Regions from separate parts of the Homo sapiens genome. Here region 2 is linked to region 1. A link means that fine-mapping ties the variant in region 1 to the expression of a gene that starts in the linked region. Tissue or cell type: whole blood. Region 1 holds a variant in brackets; the other region holds the start of a gene. All regions are shown on one strand. Distances are between the middles of the regions.

Evidence for each region. PIP is the estimated chance that this variant, and not a neighbour inherited with it, causes the effect.
Region 2: FBXO32 starts here. The variant in region 1 is fine-mapped to the expression of FBXO32 in whole blood (INTERVAL, PIP 0.96).

The regions. Positions count from the first base shown.
Region 1 is chr8:123,514,712-123,522,711 of GRCh38, reverse strand. The region is part of intron 4 of FBXO32 (F-box protein 32); the gene reads left to right. Among named protein-coding and RNA genes, the nearest start is that of FBXO32, 22 kb to the left of the region's middle. The variant G/TG (reference allele first, on the strand shown) is at 3,162.
Region 2 is chr8:123,536,922-123,548,231 of GRCh38, reverse strand. It overlaps FBXO32 (F-box protein 32), which reads left to right and starts at 7,026. Exons shown (of 9, transcript NM_058229.4): 1 at 7,026-7,333. The coding sequence starts at 7,218. RefSeq lists silencers at 6,500-6,789, 6,880-6,989, 7,040-7,129.

The sequences.
Region 1 (8,000 bases):
TGGGAAGGAACAAAAGTGAAGGGGAATGATTGTGGGTCAGGGGCCAATGGCGATGTGACATTCAGCCTATAGAACCATAGGGCAGAGGTGACAGTTGCTGGAATAGATGGGAGCTCAGTTTAAGGAAGATCGCCAAGCCAGACATCGCTGTTAGATGGATGTAATGGGGAATAAACTGCCATTGTCAACTCAAAAGTAACCAGGGCCAGGTGTGGGGGCTCACACCTGTAATCCCAATACTTTGGGAGGCCGAGGCAGGTGGATTACTTGAGGTGAGGAGTTTGAGACCAGCCTAGCCAACATGGTGAAACACCGTCTCTCTTAAAAATACAAAAATCAGCCGGACATGGTGGCAGGCACTTGTAGTCCCAGCTACTCAGAAGGCTGAGGCAGGAGAATCATTTGAACCCAAAAGGCAGAGGTTGCAGTGAGCCAGCTCACACTACTGCACTCCAGCCTGGGCAGCAGAGTGAGACTCCATCTCAAAAAAAAAAAAAAAAAAAAAAGTAACCAGGATGGGTAAAAGATGAAGAGGCAAGTCTCTCTCTGCTGAGAATACAATTAATGCATGTAAACTTGGCTCTCCTTATTATTTTAACTCCCTCTGTTAAAAGAGAGCTGTTTCACTTGCAAATAATATTTATCCAATCTTGACATGCCTGCAGATTATTAATGTCGCTGAAATTTTTTTCTCTTTCAACCTGTCAGTGTTCAAGCTCAAAGTCAGAACAAAACTTTCCAGGTTTTTTATCTGTGTTATTCATTGAGTAAATAAGGGTCTTGGAAGTACCCAGCACTCAGAGCAGAGAGAGACACTGCCTAGTCTAACTAAAGGTTTATTATAGAAGACGCAACCTTCCTATAGATGGGCACCCAACTTGGGTATTGAGCATGTGAGGCATGGCAAGGCTGCTTGAGGCTGGGACTCGTTTCTGCCTTTGATAACTCTGGCAGATTTTCCAGTCAGACACATACTTCATACTGTAACACCCCACTGTTATACGAGATAAGGAATTTGGGGATAAATTGTGTTCTCATTCTTAACAATTCTGTATGAGAATGATAGAGCATGCTTAGGCAGCAGCCTTGTGGTTTTGTCCTTTTAAACTAACAGGTAGAGGAAGCTGCTATTTTTGTTGATGCTTCTGAAAGCCCAAGTGTTTACTGTCCCTCCAGATCTCAGGCTGCTTGCCCTTCTGGAAAGTGTTTGAGATATGTTTGCATTATAAATAATTTACTCCTAGGCCCATGCCACTCCTGGGGCATCAGTCTGGAACTAGTCTCCATATAGATATCAGCCTGACCAGCCAGATGGTCCACCATTGACCTTGATGTGTCATTTGGCCATCATGAGCCACCTCATCTATAGCAGGAGGAAATTCGGGTAAACTGTTTCCTGAGTCCCTTCCAGCTACAACACTCTTTGATTCAAAAAGACAAATGTATGTTTTAAAAAACACTATTTGTTGAGTGCTTACCATGTGCCAAGCTGGGGGTAGAGTGGGAAACAGGACAACACTTGCTGTCTTGAGGGTTCCATCCTAATTAGCCTATCAGCAAGTAAGTGAACAAGACCAATTCAGATATGCATAAATGCAACAATGAAGAACAATGAAACCATAGTAAGGTGAAGATGGCAACAGGGAGGTTTTTGCATAAGATGGCCAGGGAAGGGCCCTCTGAGCCCGGGGCAGGCCACGTTTGAACTGAGACCTGAGGGATGGGATGGAGCCGAGCATGTAAAGATGTGGCAGAGGCAAAGGCCCAGAGGTGAGAATAAGCTTGGCCTATTCGAGAGACGAATAACCTGTGTAGCCGGAGCAGAGTGAATTTGTGCAAAACTAGGCTGGAAAAGGGGTAGAAACCAGATCAGGGAGAACCTTGCCAGTCATGGTAAGGAGCTTGAGTTTTTTCCTAAGCGCAAGGAGAAGCCATTTGAGGATTTTAAGCAAAGAAGTAACGTGAACTGATGGATTTTTAAAACTATGAATGCTATGCTAAAATAAACTGTAGGGAAGAAGACGTAAGAAGCCTGCTCTTGATACGAGAGCAGTGAGATAAGAGGGAAATCTCTCTTCTGCCCATTCGTCTTGCACACACCACTTCAAACTTTGGTTGATATCCGCTCTGAGATTTGCTATACGATATTGCTTGCAACTAGATTTGTCTCCTATTCGTTGCCTCCAGAACTAGCATGAGCCAAAGCTGAAGGGCAGGATGTGGTTTCAGCATGCGGTGACCACCATCCCTCCCTCCAGTAGCTCAGAGCCATTCCTGGTACTGCACGGCTCGTCACTGCAGATCATGCCGGATGCCCAGAGTGCCCACACGATAATGACACCACGGAATTCCAGAGGAGCCGAGAAGCCTCCTCCTCCTTCCCCTTCCCTCCCCCTGCCTCTCTTTAAACATAGCCACAAATTACTAGCACCTGGGCTAAAATTTGCCCAGTCAAAAACAAGCAGCCACTTCCAAACAAGACATTTTCCTCTGTTCTTTTTTTCTCTTGTGGCTAGGGGCAAAGAATCCAATTGGCTAAGTCATCCTGGTACACAGATTGCTAGATACAAACCTACTTTCCTAGGCACGCAGCTCTCTTAACACAAATAAAATCGATAAATTTGGGCTGTGCGCGATGGCTTACGCCTGTAATCCCAACACTTTGGGAGGCCAAAGCAGGCAGATCACCTGAGGTCAGGAGCTCAGGACCAACCTGGCCAACATGGTGAAACTCGATCTCTACTAAAAATACAAAAATTATCCAGGTGTGGTGGCGGGTGCCTGTAATCCCAGCTACTCAGAAGGCTGAGGCAGGAGAATCATTTCAACCTGGGAGGTGGAGGTTGCAATGAGCCGAAATCACGCCATTACACTCCAGCCTGGGCAACAGAGCAAGACTCTGTCTCAAAAATTAAAAAATTTAAAAATCGGTAAATTCTGCTCTCTTCACTACTAGTTCCATACATCACTACCTAGTAGTAGCTCTGGGCCTATAGAGTGATGCTGATGTGGAAAGTAGACTCTGTGGTTTACCCAAAGCAGTTGCCTCATCCTAAATGTGCTGGTAGCACTTTCTGAGCATTACAGTGCCCTTAATATTAAAAGTTGTTTACCAGTCACAACATATTATTATATAAAATTTCTTTTTTTTTTTTTTTTTT[G/TG]AGATGGAGTCTTGCTCTGTCGCCCAGGCTGGAGTGCAGTGGTGTGATCTCAGCTCACTGCAAGCTCTGCCTCCCGGGTTCACGCCATTCTCCTGCCTCAGCCTCCTGAGTAGCTGGGACTACAGGCACCCGCCACCGCATCCGGCTAATTTTTTGTATTTTTAGTAGAGATGGGGTTTCACCATTAGCCAGGATGGTCTCGATCTCCTCACCTCGTGATCCGCCTGCCTCAGTCTCCCCAAGTGCTGGGATTACAGGCGTGAGCCGCCACGCCCAGCCCAATATTATATAAAATTTTCTAGACTCTGTTTCCCCAGAACATAACAATAAATGGTATTGCTCCCATTTTGGAGTAAAATTTGGCCCTCCATGCAAATTGATTGGCCTTGACAAACTGAAGTCCTGAAACTGTCAGAATATATGTTCTGCCAGGCACAGTGGCTCATGCCTGTAATCCCAGCACTTTGCGAGGCTGAAACACGAGGATCGCTTGATCCCACAAGTTCGAGGCCAGCCTGGGTAACTAGGAAGACCCTGTCTCTACAAATAGAAATAAAAAAAATTAGCCAGGCATAGTGCTGTGCCCCTGTGGTCCCAGCTACTTGGGAGGCTGAGGTGGGAAGATAGCTTGAGCCTCGGAGGTAAAGGCTACAGTGAGCCATGACTGTGCCACTGCACTCCAGCCTAGGTGACAGAGTGAGACTTTGTCTCAACAAAAAAAAAAGAAAATGTGTTCTCTGTTAGACATATCTGGGCTCAAGTCCTGGCTCCAGCATTTGCTACTGCTGGTATGGCTTTAGGTGAGTACTTCTCTGAGCCTCAATATCCTCAATGGTTAAATGGAGAAGCTATCTCACTGGGTTGCTGTAAAAGATAAACAAGATTACAAATGTATAGTGCTTAGCTGCAGTTGCTGACACATAGTAAGCACCCCATTGTTATTGTTATTGTTAGCAAAATAAGACTCCATGGTAGAAAAACTATGCAAGTCATAAAATGTATCAGCATTAACTTTTATCAACAGATAGGGTGCTATTAAATGTATCACCAACATAGTAAAATGACAGAAAGGAATATTACAGTGTGAAAGCATTTATTTATTTGTTTGACAACAGCTACAATTGAAATACAGCAATTCTGAAGGTCTTTAAATGGGTTGCACTTTGCCCTGTTAACTCACTATTTCCTGATTGGCAATAATTTTACTTGGTAATGCTCTGTATTATGGTAAAAGCTAACAATAATAATTTATCGAGTATATTCTTTGTAGCAGGCACAGTTATGAGTGCTATGTGAATACATTTAATCTTCACAGCAACTTTGAAGTAGGTACTATTACTGTGCATATTTTGAAGATGGGAAAACTGAGGCAGACAGTTTGCCTCTGGAGCCCTCACTCTTAAACTCTTATGATATATACCAGAAACTGTGACATAGCCCAGGTGCCAAATCTGGCCCTCCACCTGCTTTTGTAAATAAAGTTTTATTGGAATACACCCATGCCCACTCATTTACACATTGTCTATAGCCATTTCGGTGCTATAGCTTCAGGGTGGAGTAGTTGCTACAGAGACCACGTGGCCCACAAACCTTAAAACACCTACTGTTTGGCACTTTGCAGAAAAAGTTTGCTAACCCCTGATGTCAACTTTAAACTTCACAAAAAGACTGGAGTTTAAAGGGAAAGAAATAATATCTTATAATAAAAATGCCTTATGTTTGGTATTTACTGTGGATTTGTACATATTTATCTTACTTAATTCTCATAGCAATCCTGTGAAGTAAGTAGTCTTTTTATTTCCATTTTAGAAATGAAGAATCAGGAGTTCAGAGGGATTAAATGACTTACACTCTAGGCTGAAGAGCAAACTCCATGAGTGTAGGGATCATGTGTCTTCATCATCATGTCCCTGTCACCTACCACGATGCTAGCACAGGGTGGACACTCAGAAAATACTTGCTAAATGAATGACAGTTACAAAGGTCACCCAGCTAGAGAATCCAGGTCTTCTCCTCTTCCAGGGTTCTTTCTCCTGACTCCACAGCTGTCTGACAGTTAAAAAAAAAAAAAAAGGTAGGGGGGACTTTCCCTTGAGATAGGATGAAGCACAGAATGGTTAACATGTCGTTATGCTGTCAGTTGACAAATTTTTGCTGCTATATTCCTCCTTCTCCTTAGAGAAGATAATCAGACCAAAGACAGTTCGTTTCTCCTCCAGTGCACAGTCATAGTGTTGAGAGTTTACTTGTCCTTGTGATTGGTGCATATTTTGACAAGATTAAAACTGACACCCTCATGAGATGGTAGTCACATGGAATCTGGGTTTTGGATGGATTTCAGGCAGAGCTCTGGCTGCCTTCCTCCCAACCCCTTGCCCCACCTCCTACCCAGTGATGAGTCACAGTGCACAGCTGACTGCCCTTCAAAAGCCGACCCGAGGCTTTTGTTTTCTTTCATCTGCTTCATGTTGGTCATGTGAGGATCAGGGTATTAATAGACCATCATCTTGGCCTTCCGAATCTTGCTGTTGGTCAGGGAGGTAAATGAAAGGTTTGGCCAGTCCCTTTGTGCCATTTTCACTCCTCTCTTGACTGTCACGTGCTGGTTGGTGGCAAAGCTAAACCACAGCATTCGGTGTGGTCACCGCCCATGGCCATGGTCTCTACTGGTGTTTTGATTTCCCGCCTCTTTCAGCAGACACTCGGTGAGCTCCTGACTTCCAACTAGATCACCAGTACTAATTGCAACAAACCACCTCCTCCTCCCAGTCAGCTAGCCTCATCTCTCCCTGCATGTGGAAAAGATACAGAAGCCAGGGAGAAAAAGGAGTTTGGTTTGGGGGTGGCTTTTTTTAATATGTAAAGTAAAATTACATTCAGGAAATTAAAAGTCTGTGTGTGGTTTAACAGGCTCCTAAAGAGCTCCACGGGGACAAACATGTTATGCAAATGCCATGGAAGCAGAGGTGCTCTGAATTGCCTAGGCCGTTGATCCAAAAGTTTCCATTCTCCTCTGCAACCCAATCTTTAAAATTTCATTTTGCTTCTTCCCTCAGCCTTGATTCCAGCACCCACCACAGTGTCATGCTCAGTGTTTATTGATCTGAAATGAAGCTGGGCTGAGGCCTGGCCAGGAGATGAAACTCTCTTAGAAAGTTTCCTAGGAGCGGAGATTCTAGCTTCAGTGTAAAGGAGGGGTCTCGGTTCTCTGTGTCTAGTCTACTGAGTCTCAGGCTAGTTATTACCACAATTACTTTTGCACCAGCCTAATAGTTTTCTCTGGGGGCCTGGTGGGTTCTCGTGAAGTTAATTACTTTCACTTTATATCAACCTCTTTTGTTTGTTAACTCTTTGAAAGCATGAAGTGTGATATTTTCCTGTGTTGAGAAGGACTCTGCTGAGTCCTCACTAGTTGTGGAGTGGCTCATAAGGTGGGTCTCTTGAGCCTCGCTTTGCTCATCTGTTAAGTGGATTAAACTAGATGGTCTCTTAAGATTCCTTCCAGTCTAAAGTTTCATTTTTCAACAATAGGATCTTTGTTTTTTATTTTTTATTTTTTAAGATGGAGTCTTGCTCTGTTGCCCAGGCGAGAGTTCAATGGCACGATCTCGGCTCACTGCAACCTCTGCCTCCTGGCTTCAAGCAATTCTCCTGCCTCAGCCTCCTGAGTAGCTGGGAGCACAGGCATGTGCCACCATGCCCGGCTAATTTTTTGTACTTTTAGTAGAGATGGAGTTTCACATGTTGGCCAGGCTGGTCTTGAACTCTTGACCTCGTGATCTACCTGCCTTGGCCTCCCAAAGTGCTGGGATTACACGCATGAGCCACCGCACCTGGCCTTTATTTGTTTTTTAATCTTGCCATGTCAGTAAAGAATTTTGCTATAGAAGGTAAAAAAGATTGGACTAAGTACGCACTAACTTCAGTTATTATCTTCATTTATTTTTGTCTGGCAATTATGGGGTTGGTAGGAATGGGACATACTTTTTCAACAAACAAACTGGCGGGGCGCGGTGGCTCATGCCTGTAATCCCAGCATTTTGGGAAGCCAAGGCAGGTGGATCACCTGAGGTCAGGAGTTCGAGAGCAGCCTGGCCAACGTGGCAAAACCCTGTCTCCAATAAAAATACAAAAAAAAAAAAAAACTGTTAGCCAGGCGTAGTGGCACATGCCTGTAATCCCAGCTACTCAGGAGGCTGAGGCAGGAGAATCACTTGAACCTGGGAGGCGGAGGTTGCAGTAAGCTGAGATTGCACCATTGCACTCCAGCCTGGGCAACAGAGCAAGATGCCGTCTCAAAAAACAAAACAAAGAAAACCCTTTATTTAGCACCTAATTAGTGCCAGGTACTTGCTGAGGGCTTTATGTGCATTCTCCTATTATCACTCACAACAACCTTGTATTATTGACTCTACCTTGTATTAAAGGTATTAAATACTCAACCTTGTATTAAAGACTCTAAATATTATTAGTATAGATGAACAAACTGGGTGGGGCACCAAGAAATATAGTAACTTGCCCATCATCACGGAGCTAATACATGTTCAAATCAAGACCTGAATCTAAGGCCAAGAGCTACAAGGATCCAAGTTTTTAGCCACAGTGACATCATATAAAATACATCCCTGAATTTCTCTCTCTTCCTGTGATTGGCGTCTTTCTACAGAAATGTAAGTGCAGTGAAAGAGTCTAATTAATAGACATGTTTATTGAACACTGCAGAAGCAGGAGGTATCAGGATAAGACTCTCCACTTCCATGGAAAAAGTGCACATGGCTGCTGAAGATGGGCTTTAGGTGCCTTGAGAGCAGTCAGTGCCAATAAGGAAGAAGTTCAAGC
Region 2 (11,310 bases), 24 kb before region 1:
TTATTGTTTTTCTTGTGTTCTTTGGACTAAACTCATTAGATGAGAAGTCCTGAAAAAATTCAGTTACTGGAATGTGTAAATCAGATTATTTGAATTTTACTTCAAAATTACATTTCTCAGGGACATTGGTCAGAACAGTAAGTGTAATGGAATATTCTGTCCCTGCTGGTTTGGTCTCATGGTGCCCAATTCTGCTGCTACCAGGTAGCTCTGTGTACCTCAGTGAGTCTCTCTTCTGTGAGCCTTAGCTTTCTCATGGGTAAAGGAGGATTGGACTAGGTCACCTCTAAGATCTATTCTGGGTTTTTTTAATTTTGTTTTTGTTTTTAAGACAGAGTCTCGCTATGTTGCCCAGGTTAGTCTCAAACTCCTGGTTGGTCAAGCGATCTTCCTGCCCCAGCCTCTCAAGTCGCTGAGACTACAGGCATGAGCCACTGTACTCAGCTCCTGTTAGATTTTTAAGCAGACCTATGAGTAAGTTAACACATCTGAGCCTCAGTCTCTTCATCTGTAAAATGGGAATAAAAATATCTACCTTGCAAAGTTATATGAACACTGTTGATATAAGTAAACCACCAGACACATATCTAGACAAATTTCAGTCCAAGCTATTTTTGCATATGAAAAATCTCAGAACTAAAATTTGACACTCAGTCATCCAAGATACCGTTTGAAGGATTATTGATAGGCTGGTTTTAACCAATTTCAGGCACTAATATTGTATTGAAAGCTTTGCATCCATAACAAATTTAACCTACAAATCGACGGTAACAAATTTAACATCCTCACTTTAAATTCTTTTTGTAAAGATACACTAGAAATTTGGCCTATTGATGGGAATGTTGTGGTTTCATTCATTTCCTTATATTACACAAAAGTTAGCAGCCTTGTCTTCAAATTCTTTTTGCTATTTATTAAGAGAAAAAAAAGAACTTTCATTAAAACTGAGCAATTGGCCTACAAAGGGAGGAGGATTACAAAATCCCCTTGACCCTCTCTCAGAAAGAGAACCAGGCCCACATTTGAGGAATGCCAAATGATTCTCATTAAAGTAATGAGCATATTTTCAATGACATATGTCTGACCGCCTTTAATTTAGTTGGCAGGACTTGCGGCAGCCAGAGACCCAAAAATAACACACAGCTGGCCATTCCTGCTCACACACCTAACAGACGTATTTCACACTGTTTCAGGGATGCCCCACCCTAGACAGATGGGGTTTAAGGTCATATGCAAATTGTTGTGACATTAAACATACATTCCTTGTGACCACACTAACAGGTTGAATTTAATACACTGAATTCCTCTAGCTCCTCCTTTATAAAATTCCCTCTAACTTCAACAGATTTAGTTGATTTCTGCTCCTGCCCTACCCGACAAGCTAAAGTTATTTTTAACTTACAACTACTGCTGATAAGTATTTTTCACCAAAAAAAAAAAACCCTTTCAGAAAGAGAAACTATGAAAAAACAAAATATCATTGCACTTCAGTGAGAAGTAGTCAGTCCCTCAGCCAAAGCTATAAACGAATGTCATTTTGGTTTAGAAGCAACAAAATGTTTTTTTCACAGTCCTTTCTACAAACAATTTCTGTAAACAGTCTTATGAGGAAGTGGACGGGCTAAATTTATGTTGTGTGTACCTTTGAAAATACAGTCTTCTAGCCAGGCACGGTGGCTCACCCCTGTAATCCCAGCATTTTGGGAGGCTGAGGCGGGTGGATCACGAGGTCAGGCATTCAAGACCAGCCTGGCCAAGATGGTGAAACCCCATCTCTACTAAAAATACAAAAAAAGGCCAGGTGCGGTGGCTCACGCCTGTAATCCCAGCACTTCAGGAGACCAAGGCGGGCGGATCACCTGAGGTCTGAGGTCAGAAGTTCGAGACCAGCCTGGCTAACATGGAGAAACCCCGTCTCTACTAAAAAAAGATAAAATAAAATACACAAATTAGCCAGGCATGGTGGCAGGTGCCTGTAATCCCAGCTACTCGGGAGGCTGAGGCAGGAGAATCGTTTGAACCCAGGAGGCAGAGGATGTAGTGAGCCGAGATCACGCCATCGCACTCCAGCCTGGGGGACAAGAGTGAGACTTCGTCTCAAAAAAATACAAAAAAATAGAAAAAAAATTAGCTGGGTGTGGTGGCAGGCACCTGTAATCCCAGCTACTCGGGAGGCTGAGGCAGAGAATTGCTTGGACTCCGGAGGCGGAAGTTGCAGTGAGCTGAGATCACACCACTGCACTCCAGCCTGGGCAACAGAGTGAGACTCCATCTCAGAAAAAAAAAAAGAAAAGAAAAGAAAAAGAAAATATAATCTTCCACATGTTCTACAGAATAAGGCCCATTTCCATAGTTCAAGTAAGATGCAAGGAATTATTTCATTATACTTGTACCCCAATAGACACATTTGTCCCACATCTGGAAATTTGCTGAGTGAGCTACGCTCCATGCCCTCAAAACTTACAGTTTGATGGGGAAGGTGGACATGGCTTAACCGAGTAAAAGATGGAGGTGTAAACTTTGCATAAAGATAATGACAATAAAGACCCATTGTCATTGGCACTGTTAGAAGTTCTTCATACATATTATCTCAATAAATCCTCAAAACACCCTTTGAGGTAGGTACTATCATTATTTCCATTTTACAAATAAAGGAAGTATGGTACAGAGATGTTAAGTAACTTGCCCAAGATCACACAGCTTTTTAGGTGGGGAATGTGATTTGAACCCAGTGAGTCTGGCTCTAGTCAGGGTTAGAGATAAGCCTGGGTACCAGTTGGAGTCCCACCACATTTGCTAGGTGATCTCACGCAGGCTATTCAACTTTTCTGAGCTGAAGTTTCCTCATCTATAAAATGGGAATAGCAATTCCTAGCCCACAGGTTTATGAGGAGTATGTAACAGGATTGTGTTTGTGAAGTGACTGGCACACTGTCCTCAGCATGGCAGGCATCTATCATCAATGGAATAGGACATTAAAACATATTTTTTCTAAGATACCACCTTTTGACTACCTTCCCCATCTGCCTCACTAACCCATAAAGCATCACTATTGGAGAATGCAGCTATACGAGGTAGGACTGGGGGCTGCCAACCCTCCCTTTGCTCCACCCTGCTATGTCCCTAGAAGTAATAAAATGTCAACAGGTAAAGACATGGGAATAACAGCCTTCCAGGTCAGTTCAACAACATTTGTTGATTTTTTTTTTTTTTTTTTTGAGAAGGAATCTCACTCTTATCACCCAGGCTGGAGTGCAGTGGCGCGATCTCAGCTCACTGCAACCTCCACCTCCCGGGTTCCAGCGATTCTCCTGCCCCAGCCTCCTGAGTAGTTGGGATTACAGGCACCCACCACCACGCCTGGCTAAATTTTATATTTTTAGTAGAGATGGCGTTTCACCATGTTGGCCAGGCTAGTCTCAAACTCCTGACCTCAGGTGATCCACCTGCCTCAGCCTCCCAAAGTGCTGAGATTACAGGTGTGAGCCACCGCGTTGGGCCCATTTGTTGATTTGTTGATGTAAATGTACCGTGTACCAAGAACCTTATTAGACACTGTGGCACTAAACTCCTAAGACACAGCCCTGCCATCAAGGAGCTCACAGTCCTAGACAGGAGAAGAAAACACAAAAAATCAAACACCCAGTATGTAATCTGGGTAATGTGTTATACAAAACAGTGCAGGAAAGGCAGTAGCTAAGTGTCTAAGCAATGAAACACACAGCCATGGTACATACATCATGTACACTGCACACACCATTAGGCTACATGGGGTCCTGACCAGTCTGTGCTGTGCCTTGTGAAATTCTCTGAGTATCTATCTGTCTCTATGTCTTCAGCCTGAAGCTATAACATTGATATTTTGCTTTTGGTGATTCTCAAATGCTCAGCTATGATAGGGCTTACAATCACAGAGTCTTTACAAAGTTCAAGCCCCCATCTGATTTGAAGGTAACTGTTCTGGACATAGCCTAGCAAGTTCTTTATCTTGAGGGGTCCAGCATTACAAAACTTCCCAGTAGAAACCATGTTTAAATAAGTGTCAGCTGAGCATGGTGGCTCATGCCTGTACTCCTAGTAGTTTGGGAGGCCAAGGCGGGAGGATCACTTGAGGCCAGAGTTTGAGACCAGCCCGAGCAACATAGCAAGACCCCATCTCTCCAAAAAAAAAATGTTTTAATCAACCAGGCATGGTGGTGCACGCCTGTTGTCTTAGCTGCTCAGGAGGCTGAGGCAGGAGAATCACTTGAGCTCAAGAGTTCAAGGCTGCAGTGAGCCATGATTGCACCGGTACACTCTAGCCTGGGTGATAGAGCAAGACTCTGTTTCAAAAAAAAAAAAGAAGTCTCAAATTAGATTTTTTTATGGTAAGAGAAATCTGAAATAGTCAATCACACTTCAGAAGAAGCCTGCATTAAGATATGATAGCAACAATTCTGTTTGTTTGTTTTAAGGAACAGAAAGCGGAAGGACTAGAGACAAACACTGAGGCTTCCTAAGATTAGTTATTAGACAAAAAGACAAGGACAAAAATAATTGTAATTTCCTATTTGTGCTTGAATTTTAGAAGTTAAAGAAACTTTCACCAACTTTGAGCCACTCAACCCTTTATAGTAGTCAGCTATCGACACAATAATGCTGTGTAACAGTAAATCACAAAAATCTCAGTGGCATCAACAAGACACATTTATTTCTTGCTAACACATCTGTGAGGTCAACGGGAGTGTCTGCTCCATGTGTCACATCCTGGGACACACGGATGTCACTCAAACCACTCCAGGAGCAGTGGCTACACAGGGTATGCTCTTTTCATGGAGCAGGTGAACACACAAAACATCAAGACCAACCAGGCAAGTACATACATCAGATCCTCTGCTCACATCACATCCATCAGCATCCCCTTGGCTAAAGCCAGTCATATGGCCAAGCCCATTGTCAAGAATTAGAAAAATACACATCACCAAAAAGTGTGGGCACATGACGCTACTGGAAAGGAGGGAAGAATGGGTACTAATAATTCAATCTACCACAGCTTTTAAACCATCCTGAAAGGTAGGCATTATTGGCTCCATTTTTTCTTGACAGTTAAGTAAATGGGGCCCTAAGAGTTTAAGTCATTCATCCAAGGGAGGACAGGTAGTATGCTGCTCCAGCAGAATTAGAATTCAAAACTTCTACCTTCTGGCCCTCTGTGGTCTCTACAGGTATGTAGCCAGCTTACTAATACATAACTAACCCACATTGTTCATAATCACATCCCAGGCGGGCATGGTGGCTCACGCCTGTAATCCCAACACTTTGGGAGGCCAAGGAAGGAGGATCACTTGAGCCCAGGAGTTTAAGACTAGCCTGGGCAAGATAGCAAAACCCTATCTCTACAAAAAATATAAAAAATTAGCCTGGTGCAGTGGTGAGTGCCTGTAGTCTCAGCTACTGGAGACTGGGGCCGAGGTGGGAGGATGGCTTGAGCTGGGGAGGCTGAGGCTACAGTGAGCCATGATCACTCACTCTAGCCTGAGTGACACAATGAGACCCTGTCTCAAAAATAATAATAATAATAATCACATCCCTTAATTATGCAGATACCAATTCCCTCCAACAGAGACCAGACCCAACACTGCCTCATTTGTTAGCACCATCACAGTGTTTAACATTTGTTTGGGACTTCTTCAATGTTTTTACAAGCTTTTTTTTTACTATTACTACACTAATAAATTATTTACGGTGGGAAATCTAAATCAGAAAGCTCTGGCTTCTTGAAAACAAACTTTATTAAAAACGTCTTCCCAGTCCAACATGTAGCCTCATAGGGCACACACAATTTCTTTGCCTGAGCCTTAAAGATTACACCGAGTCAGTGGACTAGATGATATTGATGGCTGCAGAGAAAGAAGAATGGAAGAATGAAGTTTGAAGCTAATGCTTGAGTATGGGATTTTTACTCTGCTGCTGCTGTCCTGTGCAAACTAATTGCCAAATAGACCAGGCTGTAAAGCATCATAACTAGAGGTGATGAAGGGCAAGAAGCCACCCTCATGCCAGCAGCCTCCCGTATCCATTCACTTATTCACACAAATAGTTGTTGAAGGCCTGCACTGGGCCTGGCAGGGTGCAGGGGCTGAAATGCCTCCGGAACAAGACAGACCAGCTCTCATGGAGTTCCCACTGCAGACAGGGGTAGATTGTTGTAACAACAGCAAAAAGTAAAAGCAAACAGGGTAGTTTCAGATTGTACTGTAGCATTGGCCCTGGGTACATCATTTAACCCGTCTCTTAGAGGGTTCGGGTAGGATAGGGGCGCTGTTCTTTTTCTCCACTCCCAACCTGCGGGAGCCAGATACCTCCCAGGGCTTCCTCTCCTTCCCCTCCTTTGCTGCCCCAGGGGCAGGTCTGAAGGAGGACTGGTTAGTGACAGCTAAGGGGCCCGGAGGGCTGGGAGGCTGTCCCTCCTCCCCGCTCCAACCCCCGCGCGCTAGGGCGGGGTTGGGGCAGTGAGCGAGGTCAGGAGGCTGCGCCCCCTACTCCCCGCCCGGCGGGCGCGGTGCCGGCCCCAGCTCTGCGGACGGCCCGGGAGGCTGATCTGGCTGCGGAGGTCGATCCTGATAGCTCGGGGGCAGGAGGGGGGCTGGCCCTGCTCCTCACGCCCACCCCGCAGGGACCCAGACGCCCCTCCGGCCCCCTCCCTGCACCCCGTCAGCCCGGGAGCTGCAGGAGACCGGGGCGCATCTTTCCAAGCGCCGGGCCTCGCTCTGGGACAACGGTGTCCTGGGGGCGGGGAGGGCGCGCGGAGGTGCCAGGGGCGGCGGGGTACCCGGCCCGGCAGCACCGCTTCAAGTTTCCACCGGCGCGGTTGTGCAACCGGGAGGGGAGCGTGAGCCGCAGGCGCCTCGGAAAACAAGCCGAGCCCATAAACAAAGCCACGTGGCCTCCGGGCCGGGGGGCCGGGCTAAGAGCGGGCGGCTCTTCCGGCAACAAAGAGCTGCGGCCGGCTGCGGGGATAAATACTGCGGCAGCTACTGCCGCGCAGCACTCCCGGAGCCTGCAACGCTTGAGATCCTCTCCGCGCCCGCCACCCCGCAGGGTGCCCCGCGCCGTTCCCGCCGCCCCGCCGCCCCCGTCGCGGGCCCCTGCACCCCGAGCATCCGCCCCGGGTGGCACGTCCCCGAGCCCACCAGGCCGGCCCCGTCTCCCCATCCGTCTAGTCCGCTCGCGGTGCCATGCCATTCCTCGGGCAGGACTGGCGGTCCCCCGGGCAGAACTGGGTGAAGACGGCCGACGGCTGGAAGCGCTTCCTGGATGAGAAGAGCGGCAGTTTCGTGAGCGACCTCAGCAGGTGAGGGGACCCGCTACCAACTTCCAGCCCCCGCGAAACTGACCCGGGCTGGTCTGGGGGGCGCAGGGACGGCGAATGAGGGGCAGGCAGGGCTGGAGCGGGCTGAGGAGGGAGACCCTGACCCGGAGGGTGGGACTACGGGGCCCGATTTCTGCAGAGGTCTTCGGACCACCGGAGACAGGGAATTCGGTTTCTCTTATTGTTCAAGGTCAGTGTCTCCAAGTGGACACGACTCCTTACAGAACACCTGGTCCCTCTGAGAGTCTGATGACATTCGCGGATCGTGTCCCCAAACGTTCGCTCAAACTTAATCACACAGCTTTAGTGGTCCCTGCTTTAAGGACACCGGAGTCGCGCACTTTGCCCATGTGGGGGCGCGGGCGGGTGGGCTGAGCCCCTTCACCGCGGGGTGGCCCGGCTCCCAGCGCCCAAGCGCTGTGGACGCGACAGGTGACGGGATCCGACGAAGGTCCCGCCTGGAGCGCTTCCAGGCCCTGCCCAGGCACGGGCAACCACGAAGTGGCCGGGAGGATGAGTAACCAGGAAGGGACGGCCAGATGGTCCCTGGGGCAGCCGCTTACTGGGCGGACTTGCGAGCGGTGGAGGCTTGGGGCTGCAGAGGTGCAAAGGAGGGAAGGGGGCAGGGGATGAATCCCACAAGAGCTCTGCTTCTGGGAGGACAGGGCTCTTGCACCTGTTTCCTCGGTGGCCCTCTCGGTCGGTCTGCTTTGTATAGAGTGCACTCCGTTTCCAGGGGTGCCTGTCAGCTGCGAAAAGCCTGCCTGGCCCCGGTGAGCCTCTGGATTCGAGGCCTCACCTGAGCTCTGTGGTCTGGCGGGAAACCTGAGGTCCGCTGCGCTCCCTGCTCAGCTTGGCTAACGATGCCAGCGCCGGCTAGTACGCAAGGTAGCCTGGAATTTCTCAGCCCCTGACCTCGACAGTTGACTTTCAGAGACTCTCAGCATTTAGCCCGGTGAGCGGGGGCGATGAAAGTGATTCCAGAATGGACTGGTGCAGCCAGAGTCACCCTTGGGAGCCTTTTCCTGCCACCTTTGGTTAAAACCATGGGCCCCTGCACCCTTAAATTGACTTCAATGGAGAATTCTGTTTCTGGGCCAGGTTCCCGCTTACTGAGATTTACCAGTCGTTGCTTGGATGAAGCATTGGCAATAAATTTTGAGAAAACTATCAAGAAAATGTGGTTATTTTGGCAACTTGAACTCCCGTGCCTCCCATTTGTTTGTGATTTGTAATGCATCAAATTCCCATTGTCTCACAATGTAAAGAAAGACATTATTTAATTCTGGGGGTCTGTCCGGAGAGACTTGAGCGTATTAACCACCAGCATATAACCATTTACGTTGGAGTTACTTGGAGGCTGTCCCAGGGGAGTTTAGGGACCACCATAAGGAAATCTTATTTACGTAAAATCAAGTAATTTATTTACGGGAAAGTAAGACCAACTGCTATTGACAGACTATGTCTTTTATCGACTGGAGTTACCAATTATGCCTAAATTATTCTCCCTCAACAAAATGGGAACCTTCCTTCCTTCCTCCTTGTTCCTAAGGACAATGATCTAATATGTTGGTACTTTATTTCTGTATACAAGTTCAGGTTCTTTCTAGAAAAGTGCCGAAAGGGTCTGAAGAGTCATGTTAGAGCTGCTCACCCAAATATAATTGCAGGATGCTCCTCAGTGGAGAACAGATGATTGAGTTCAGCAGAAGATTTAAAATGTAGGGTCGTATTAATACTTACCCTACTCGGGAGGCTGAGGTGGGAGGATGGCTTGTGCTCAGAAGTTCAAGGCTGCAGCGAGTCATGACTGTGCCACTGCGCTCCAGCCTGGGCCACAGAGCGAGACCCTGTCTCTAAAAATAAATAAAAATTTAAAATTTGTTTTAAAATACCCTATACCGGCATCAGGAGAGAAACTGGTGTCACTCTCCTTTAGAAATAGTGGTATCTCTGTCTTCACAGTATGGAAGACCTGAAGATGGTCTTAACTTACCACAAAAGTTTAGACTGGGCTGGAATCAGGTGGTTTCCTGCACAGCCCCCCTCCCGTGTCCTGTTCATGAGCCTCTTTTTCTTCCCATTTCACACCTGAGCTGGAGCTGTCACATCCATCATCATTACCGCAAATAGTCATTGATATACTGACCACCTGTGGTCCTTTGAGTCAGCGTTTAGGAATCATTTGGTAGCCTCCTAGCAAAGCAGCTGGCTGTTTGTTTGCAGGGTATTTTTTTTTCCAGCAACTGTAAACAATCCCTTCCCTGCTTAGCATGAGAAGCCTGCAACTTCTTAAAAGCAGTTGGCCTTCTGTGGTCTGGGTTTGTCATCTCAAATATCCTCACTGTTTTTGGTCTTGGTGATGTTTCCCCGTGATGTCAGGTTTGGACTGCGTGCCTGCCTGCACAGGTGAAGCTGAATGCCTCTCCTGTTATGAGAAAACAAAAGGCAGGCCCTTAAGCGGGGAGGGACCGTGAAACAGAGAACTACAGAGACATGGTAGACTGACTTCTCTAATTCCACAGACCATTCTGCAAACGGCCCAAACAAGAGCCCGGGATGAAGGATGCATTTGGTGGTTTTCAGCCTGGGGTTATTGTTTCGTGTTGACCAAGTCTTGTCCACACAGCACACCTATTCTGGACTCAGCTGGCCATCTTCTCTGTGGTCTAGGACTCCAACCTTCTCCAGTGTAGAATGTTACAAATCCAGTCCCAGCCATGTGTCCAGGAGTGAGATCATGGGAGGATTTAAGATAAGCTTAAAGCAGGACCCCTTCTCAAAAATGTTGAAATTATATAAAATAGAAGGGGAATGGCAAGTGTTAAATATGCTGGGGCAGATTTAAAATGCAAGGAAAGAGCTTGGCGTGAATTGGGATGATCCAAGAATGCTTCAAGGAAGTGGTGGTTCAGGCACCCGCACAGCCTTCCTCAGCAACCACCCCCTCACCGCCCACCCCCAGGATGAGTAACCTAAGCTGTCTGAGCCTCTGCCACTCTTTTCTAAGCCTACACTTCTGTCATTGAAGACTGACTCAAATGTTACTTTACTGTATGGCTGAGGCTGGACCCGGAAGCAGGAAGTTTACCTTGGTGACTGGATAAAAATAATAGTTAAGATTTTATGAGTGCTTACTGTGTGCAAGGCACTGTTCTATGAGCGTTATACACTAGGCTGTTTGTTTCACCAGAGCATTCCGGGTGCTAGCCTTGTGAGTGTGGCGATCTAGAAATGCGTCAGTAAATTGGTGTAGAAATCTCTACTGGCTTTAATCAGGCTATATAACTACAATTAAACCTCTGGGGGCACGTCACAGCTTTCTTAAATGGTTTTTATTGCAAATGAAATGAGAAATAGGGCTTTATTTTTTTTTTCATTCCCTTCTTTATCTGCTGCCAAAACAGACTTATTTATGGTCTGATTTTGAATTTTTTCTACATTTTTAAAAAGTTGCCTTAAAGTATCTTGGTATGTGGTAATGTGGGGCTGTGCAGTGGATCTTTTTCTTATTCTAGGCCTGTGCCTATAAAAATCAAGATTAGTAAATAGTGACTACAAAATAGCGACTTGCTGGCTATTATTGAATTTAGTGAAGAAAGCAGCCTCGTTGAGATGGTTTTGCTTATTAAAAAAAAAAAAATCCTGTGCTCCAATTCCTAAATGGTGGTGGTTTTTCTTGTTAAAAATTTCAGTTGTAATTTTCCATTGGCTTTGCATTTTCTTGAAAAGGACACGATTGAACTCTCAAAATAGCCTCTAACTGAATATATTATTGCTTAAAAGAAAACTTATAAGTAGGCAACACAAATAAACCCCATAGCCCTTCTTTCCAGGCCCTTCCTCCGGAATCTAAAACCTAATACCAAGTGAAAATATAGGGTTTCTCTTTGGTTAAAACTTTTCTACATTCTACGGTGAGAGAACATCATCAATTATGTAAAATTCTTTCTAAACTA